2 linked regions of the Homo sapiens genome follow. The protein of the gene in region 1 interacts with the protein of each later gene in a pairwise test. Each region holds a gene or a part of one and is shown on either strand. Other genes may lie near its edges. The genes, in order: TTC1 and SOX5.

Region 1 (3,824 bases):
AACTTTTTTCTGTATATATTTATTTGTTAAATTTGTATTGATGCCCTCCTTTAGTGTAGACTTTCTATTAAGAACTGGAAACAGAGCCAAACAAAACTTTTTTTTTTTTTTTTTTTTGAGAAAGGGTCTCTGACTCCCAGGCTGGAGAGCAGTGGCACAGTCATGGCATACTGCACCCTCAACCTCCCAGATTCAAGCAACCCTCCCACCTCAGCCTCCTGAGTAGCTGCGACTACAGACACATGCCAACACACCCAGCTAATTTTTGTATTTCTTGTAGAGACAGCATTTTGCCATGTTGCCCAAGGTGGTCTCAAACTCCTGAGCTCAAGCGATCCTCCCAACTCGGCCTCCAAAAGTGCTGGGAATATGGGCAGGAGTCACTGCACCTGGCCCAAACAGAACTTTTGTCTTTATGTAGCGCACCACAAACATAAATACTTGGGGTTTTTTTTTTTTATTTAATAGGATCATAGACATACTTAACTTGATCTTATTTCCACATTAGGATTCTTGTGTTTCTCAAATTCAAAATAAAGGGAAAGGTTTTGGTTTTTTTTTTTTTTTTACCAACCCTTGTTTCTCCTCTTTTCCTCAGAGATTACCTAAGCAAATTGAAGAACGTAATGAAAGACTAAAAGAAGAGATGTTAGGTAAGCTTACTTCTTACTTTGCTTGATCATAAACAGCTAGGAACCTAGGGTGGGGACATAGCGAATACTAGAGGAGAACACATGAGTTAGAAAGTTTCGGACTCTACCACAAGGCTACTGACTTCTGAGTTATTTTGACCCCAGAAGGGGCAGCGTGGCTTAGAGAGGGTATTGGCTTTTTTTGGAAACCAGATTTCCTTTTTGATTTTCTTGGAAATTTTTCTTGCCTGCAAGAATTTAAGCATAATTCAGTTCCCTGGGATTATGCTTAAATGGGATTTAAAATCCTAGGATACCACCAACCTCGATTTCAGATAACAATTACATAAAAACAGTTTAGTTTCTTCATTGAATAATCATTCCTTGAGGTTCATTAGGATGCAGTCAAGATCATGAGAATTTTTATTTAGAAAATGGCACTCAAAGTCCCTTTAGTGTTTGAGAACACACGAGAGGGCAGGAATTAGGAGTAAAGAGAAATCAGACTGGGGGTAGGGGTAGGGCAAATGGATTCATTTGATCCATGTTTAGTTATTTCTCATATTTGCCAAAGCATTTTAGAGTTGGAACCTCCCACGAGCAATCTGCTTAAGTAAGAGGAGTGAGGGTTCCTGAACACAGACTTAAGTCTTTTCCACATGTAACCTGTCTGATATTTCGCTGGTGAAGATCTGCCATGTATTTTCCTTTTTGAGTATTTTCTAAATCTGTTGTTTGAATTACATTTTATAAACTGCAATCATGTGGCCCTAAAGGAAAAATCATTTAAAATAAATTGAGCCTGTCTGGCATTTATGGCCTTCAGACATCAGCATCCAGACAATGGGAACAAATTTCCCAAAGGATCATTCTGATAGCCAAGTTGATTGAGAGGAGGCCATTAACCTAGACTATCCAGAGACTTTGGCCCCTGCCGGGTAGACTCAGACTGTAAAGACGGCTGCTTCCGATTCAGGATAGCTCTGGAGCCTTCCCCAGATTTTCCAAAAAAGGGAGGGGGATGGGGGAGCTTTTCCCCTAATTTACATATTTAATTAAACTTGGCCAGGCACGGTGGCTCCTGTAATCCCAGCACTTTAGGAGGCCAAGGTAGGAGGATTGCTTGAGCCCAGGAGTTCAAGGCCAGCCTAGGCAACATGGTGAAACCCCATCTCCACAAAAAATTAGTCAGGCATGGTGGCATGTGCCTGCCCATAGTCCCAGCTACATGGGAGGATCACTTGAGCCCAAGGGTTAGAGGCTGCAGTGAGCTATGATGGTGCCACCACACTCCAGACTGGGCAACAGAGCATGACCCTGTCTCAAAGAAGAGGGAAAAGAGCATTTTCTCACCTATTTTTACTAACAATGATGCTCTATTTTAGCAAAAAAAAAAAAAAAAAAAAAAAAAACTGTTTGCATTTAGTATTTGAATTTCTTGCTAAAAAAGATGACCTTGTGAATGGCCATAGTGGATCTGGAAGGCATTGGTCTCTTAGTCCATTTTTTTAAAGCCAGTCCAGTAAAGGGACTGGTGCAAACTGAATCTTACTGCCTATTGTTAGTTCCAGATGGAATTAAAACTTCCATTTGTCCTTGTCTTTATAAATTCTAATGCACCAGAATTTTCTGTCTCCAAGGCTTTGGGTTTTTCTTATGTCATTCTCTTCATTTGAAAAAATTCAAATTGAATTCATTCCCTCGGTTGCTTCTAAAATGAATTCACCTGCCATTAGACTTAACCAACTTAAGTTGCTTTGTAAATAATATGTGTTGTTACACATGTGTAGTTTGAATGGCTAGATTCCTTTTTTCCCTTAATGAGTATAAAAATCATGAATAAGATACTGCTCTAGGTGTTACCCCACAATAGATAACCTAGAAGAGAGAAATCACTCTTTACATGGAATTTCAGCCCCCACAAGAGCTTTTCTGGTATTCCTTCCTCCTTGTTGCTGATGAGGTAACTTTGGTTCATGTTCTGTGAGATTCCCTAGAGGCTAGACATTCTGAATGCAAATTAATATCACTTAGAAGTTCTGAGCAAGCTTTTCACAGTGGACTGCATCATCTTTATGCTAGTTCCTGTTAAAATGATGGCTTCTATGGAGAATAAGCAGTTAAAAATTTTTTAAATTGGGTAGTGTGGGCTGGGTGTGGTGGCTCACACCTGTAATCCCAGCAATTTGGGAGGCTGAGCCCGAGTTCAAGACCAGCCTGGGCAACATGGCAAAATCCTGTCACTAAAAAAATTAGCCAGGTGTGCTGGTGTGCACCTGTAGTCCCAGCTACTTAGGAGGCTGCTGTGGGAGGATCACTTGAGCCCAGGAGATCGAGACTTCAGTGAGCCACAATGATGCCACTGCACTCAAGCCTGGGTGACAGAGTGAGACCTTGTCTTTAAAAAAAAAGAAAATTATAAAATCAGGTAGTGTGATGCCTATGCCTGTAGCTTTTGTTCTTTTTATTCAGGATCACTTTAGCTTTCAGAGTCTTTTGTGGTTCCATACAAATTTTAGGATTTTTCTATTTCTGTGAAGAATGTCATTGGTGTTTTGACAGGGATTACATTGAATCTGTGGATCACCTTGAGTAGTACAAAATGGGTTTTTATTTAGATGTGTTCAGTATTCTTTAACTTGTTTTTTCTTCCATCTCTGTAATTTCCTTTTCATTAGAAAGAAGAGCTATGTACTCCTTGAGGGAAAAAATCCTGATAGGAATTATTAGTGGGTAGAACAATTATTTGCTTTGCCCTTTCTAGCCCATCATTTATAATCTTTAGAACAAGAGACCCAGGGTGGCCATTAGTCCTAGTGGCACAGTCCTTGCTGATCACAGAAGATGATCGTGATAGCATCAAGACGATCACTTGAGGAAAGTGGTCAGCAGCTGGAGTGGGGGTTGGTTGTTTTTGTTTGTTTGTTTGTTTGTTTGGTCCTTTTCTCTGGGATAATTAGCCTCCCAGCCATAATAACCAAGGAATGTAAGGTTTAAAAGGACTTAAGGGTATGTGTGGTTGATAGTGTGATGAGATGGAAATAGAGACCCTGGACATAGCATCCCAGGAGGCTCAGAGCATTTTTGAGGAGCTAGTCATTGATGCTTTATTTGCTTTCTCTCTAATGGAATGATTTCACAGTTTTCTTAAATAGCTGGGAAAAAAGTTGGCTGGGTACAGTAGCTCATGCC
Region 2 (3,824 bases), on another chromosome or scaffold:
ATGTTTATTAATATTATAATTTTAATTATAATTAAATGTTTAATCAAAGGAATTTTTAATTACTACCATTCCTGTAAGCTTAAAATACTTAAACATTTTGGGGAGGATGAGACTACATGATATATGTTGGGAACTTTTGTAGTAAAAAACATCTCCCACATAAAAATATTCAATAACTAGATAATTAGTCTCAGATTCAAAATGCATGATAACATATCATGTAACTTTTCTGTTCACATGTGAATTATATCATGATCTAATGTAGAAATGAGAAATGTATCCATTAAATTATCTATGAGCTTTAAGGGACATAATACAAAAGTTTGGCTAGAATGCAAACCAGAAAAAAAAAAATACTGCCCAGTGTTTATATCTTTAGGTACAAAACCACCACCACCTCTGTTCTTGTGGGATCTCACTAATCAAAAACAGGTTTATGTATTTCTGGGTTTTGGCTAACATCTCAACTTTAGATTTTCTTGTTCTCAGCCATATCACTTTCTGGAATGCTTAGAAGCTGTGCAAATTGGAATCCTAACCTCCTTTCTTCATAGGATCTCGCTGGAAAGCTATGACAAACCTAGAGAAACAGCCATATTATGAGGAGCAAGCCCGTCTCAGCAAGCAGCACCTGGAGAAGTACCCTGACTATAAGTACAAGCCCAGGCCAAAGCGCACCTGCCTGGTGGATGGCAAAAAGCTGCGCATTGGTGAATACAAGGCAATCATGCGCAACAGGCGGCAGGAAATGCGGCAGTACTTCAATGTTGGGTATGTACCTTTTAGTCATTTTTCTCATGGGGCAAACTTCCTGTTATACTTAATGGGATGTGAAACATATTTGTTCAGTTGCAAAAAGACATTTTGAAAAAGAATCTGAGCTCACAGTATTTTCAGAGACAAATAGTCTCCCACATGATCTTGAAAAATATGTCCATATGAATCCACTGCAAGTTCCTAGCTCTACCATGAGATTTGTTAACAACTGGTTTAAAAACAAGATATCTACAAGCAAATGATTTTGAAGTTTTCTATTAAAAACTTAGAAGTATAACTGGTTCTTTTCTTCATTGGTTTGCATTACTTCCTAAGCTTCACCATGATAAATTCTAAAACTAACAACTTTGTTGAGACAATACAAAATAAAAATCATTTCAAAAGCAAAAATACTTATTTCTAAATATAGAGAGGTTAGTGAGCTATCAAGGTACATGTGTGGCCTTTGTGGATCACACAAGCTAGGGATTATATTTAGGGTGTAACAAGGTTGGGAACAGGAGGTTTCATTCTGAATTGAGAACGCAGCTCCGAGATGTTTTACAATGCTCCCGTGGCAAGGTTGTTGACAGTGCTGTAGATGGGCTACAGAAATGCATTGCTTCTATAGAATTCTCTCAAAAACCCAAAATAAAGTTGTTCATATTTGAAACAGAAGTTAGTTTCTAAGAGCTTCTTAGAATAATAAATATTGTTCTAAATATGGGCAGAGAAGGACTCATAAAACCTTTCCAAATCTGCTCTGTCCCCTCCAGTTCCTTGGAAGAGGCTGCATGCTCTGTCCAGTGGTCTGTGATTCATATGCAAGCACATGACTCCTCACAAAGCTAAACACAATGCCCAACAGTTCTTGGGCAAATAGTAAACATACGAATGAATAAAAACAAGCATAAATGCACATCATCTATTCATCCTTTCCAATAGGACCACCTACATTATTTATAGGACCAGATGCAAAAATGAGGAGACAGGGTCTCTTGTTAAAAAGTTATTAAGAATTTCAAGTCTGTGGCAGCACAACTTTAAACCAAGTATGGGACCTTAGTGCAGTTGCACAGTTTGTACATCCATGAAGCTGCTCCTGCTTCCTACCACTACGAGGCCAGAACTGTTTCAGAGACTCAGTGGACAGTGTGAATTTGTTCAGTTCTGGTGTGTTCTGGGCAGTAAAGTTTTATTTTGAGAACTCTAATGCTTTAGGATTTTCCCATTAAAATTTAATTATCTTTAGATTTAATTCTAGGGAAAAATACTATTTCTGCATGTTATAATGAAAGAAAAATGAACTTGGAATCAAGGACCTGGGTTCTTCTGCTTCATCTTTCTGCACCTCAGTTTTTTAATAAAACAGTAGTAACAAACAGGATTAAGAATAAGATGGACAACACATGTCAATATCTTGTACTCTATAAAGCACTACCTAAACATAAGGTATTAGGCCTGGTGCGGTGGCTCACGCCTGTAATCCCAACACTTTGGGAGGCCGAGGCAGGTGGATCACCTGAGGTCAGGAGTTCAAGACCAGCCTGGCCAACATGGTGAAACCCCGTCTGTACTAAAAATACAAAAGCTAGCCAGGTGTGGTGGCAGGCGCCTGTATTCCCAGCTACTTGGGGGGCTGAGGCAGGAGAATCGCTTGAACCCTGGAGGGGGAGGTTGCAGTGAGGCAAGATCACGCCATTGCACTGCAGCCTAGGCAACAGGAGCGAAACTACGTCATCTCAAAAAAAAAAAAAAAAAAAGAAAAGAAAAGAAAAACAAGGTATTAAAGTTCAAGTAGGATGGAGTTTGAAAAATGTTAGGCAATTAGATAAAATTAGTACCTTAGAATTGGACATTGCTGAGCAAATTAATTATGTAGTAAAGTCCACATCTAACTATTCACTTACCCACGATGTCTTTTTGGAAATTCCTTTCTTGACAGGCAACAAGCACAGATCCCCATTGCCACTGCTGGTGTTGTGTACCCTGGAGCCATCGCCATGGCTGGGATGCCCTCCCCTCACCTGCCCTCGGAGCACTCAAGCGTGTCTAGCAGCCCAGAGCCTGGGATGCCTGTTATCCAGAGCACTTACGGTGTGAAAGGAGAGGAGCCACATATCAAAGAAGAGATACAGGCCGAGGACATCAATGGAGAAATTTATGATGAGTACGACGAGGAAGAGGATGATCCAGATGTAGATTATGGGAGTGACAGTGAAAACCATATTGCAGGACAAGCCAACTGATAAGGGTCAAAAGATTGTTGTGACCTTAGGACTTAAAGAAGCCCTAACTGGTTCATCCTTACCAGTGGCCAAGCACATTAACTTTCTCATACACTGACTGTTACTTTAACTGTTAGTCTTAAATAGTTGGGACATCAGCTGACTAATAGACCTCAGCCTCAAAAGGCTTGGAAAGAAAAAACAAATACAACAAGCAAACAACAATATCAACAACAAGAGATTGAAATAAGCTATGGGTAAAATAATGCCAGTAATTCAGCTGCTACATCCAAGCACTGAAGTCTTACCCGTCAACTTTTTTTTTTTTTTAAATAAACTTTATGGCTGTTTGTTCTACAATGTTCTAGAAATTCTCACTCAGGTACACAGTGCCAACAAGTGGCTTGTGAATGTGTTTTGTTGTTTTGTGCTACAATTTTTAAAAAGAAAAAAGTTTTGTTTTGTTTTTTGGGGTTTCTGGGTTTTTTCCTTTTCTTTTTCTTTCCTTTCATTTTTTTTCTTTGTAATGCACCTGACAGAAAAAAAAGAAAAATGAATTTCTCTTTACTTCTCTCCACCTTCTCCATCTCTCTACTTTAAAGATGGAAGTCTGTGCATGAGGGGAAAGAGGGAAAAAGAGCCTGTTTTTAACTTCCTTGCTATCCACCACAAAATAAGCAATTATTTTCTTTAGAGGACTTTATCTATTGCACACCACACTACATCTTTGAGCAAGTGCCAAATTTGTACTGAAGTGTTGACCAAGTTCATTTTTTCTCTTTACTTTTTCCTTTTCCTTCTTAAGTTAGGACAGTGTTAAATCTTAGACAATCCCTTGAA

What was found.
Region 2: the proteins of TTC1 (region 1) and SOX5 interact in a two-hybrid assay, tested with the Homo sapiens proteins (one large-scale study listed by BioGRID and IntAct).

Annotation. Positions count from the first base shown.
Region 1 is NC_000005.10:160,050,531-160,054,354, forward strand, and holds part of TTC1 (tetratricopeptide repeat protein 1), read left to right. Parts: intron 1-598; coding exon 599-653; intron 654-3,824.
Region 2 is NC_000012.12:23,533,400-23,537,223, reverse strand, and holds part of SOX5 (transcription factor SOX-5), read left to right. Parts: intron 1-554; coding exon 555-771; intron 772-2,701; coding exon 2,702-3,005; 3' UTR 3,006-3,824.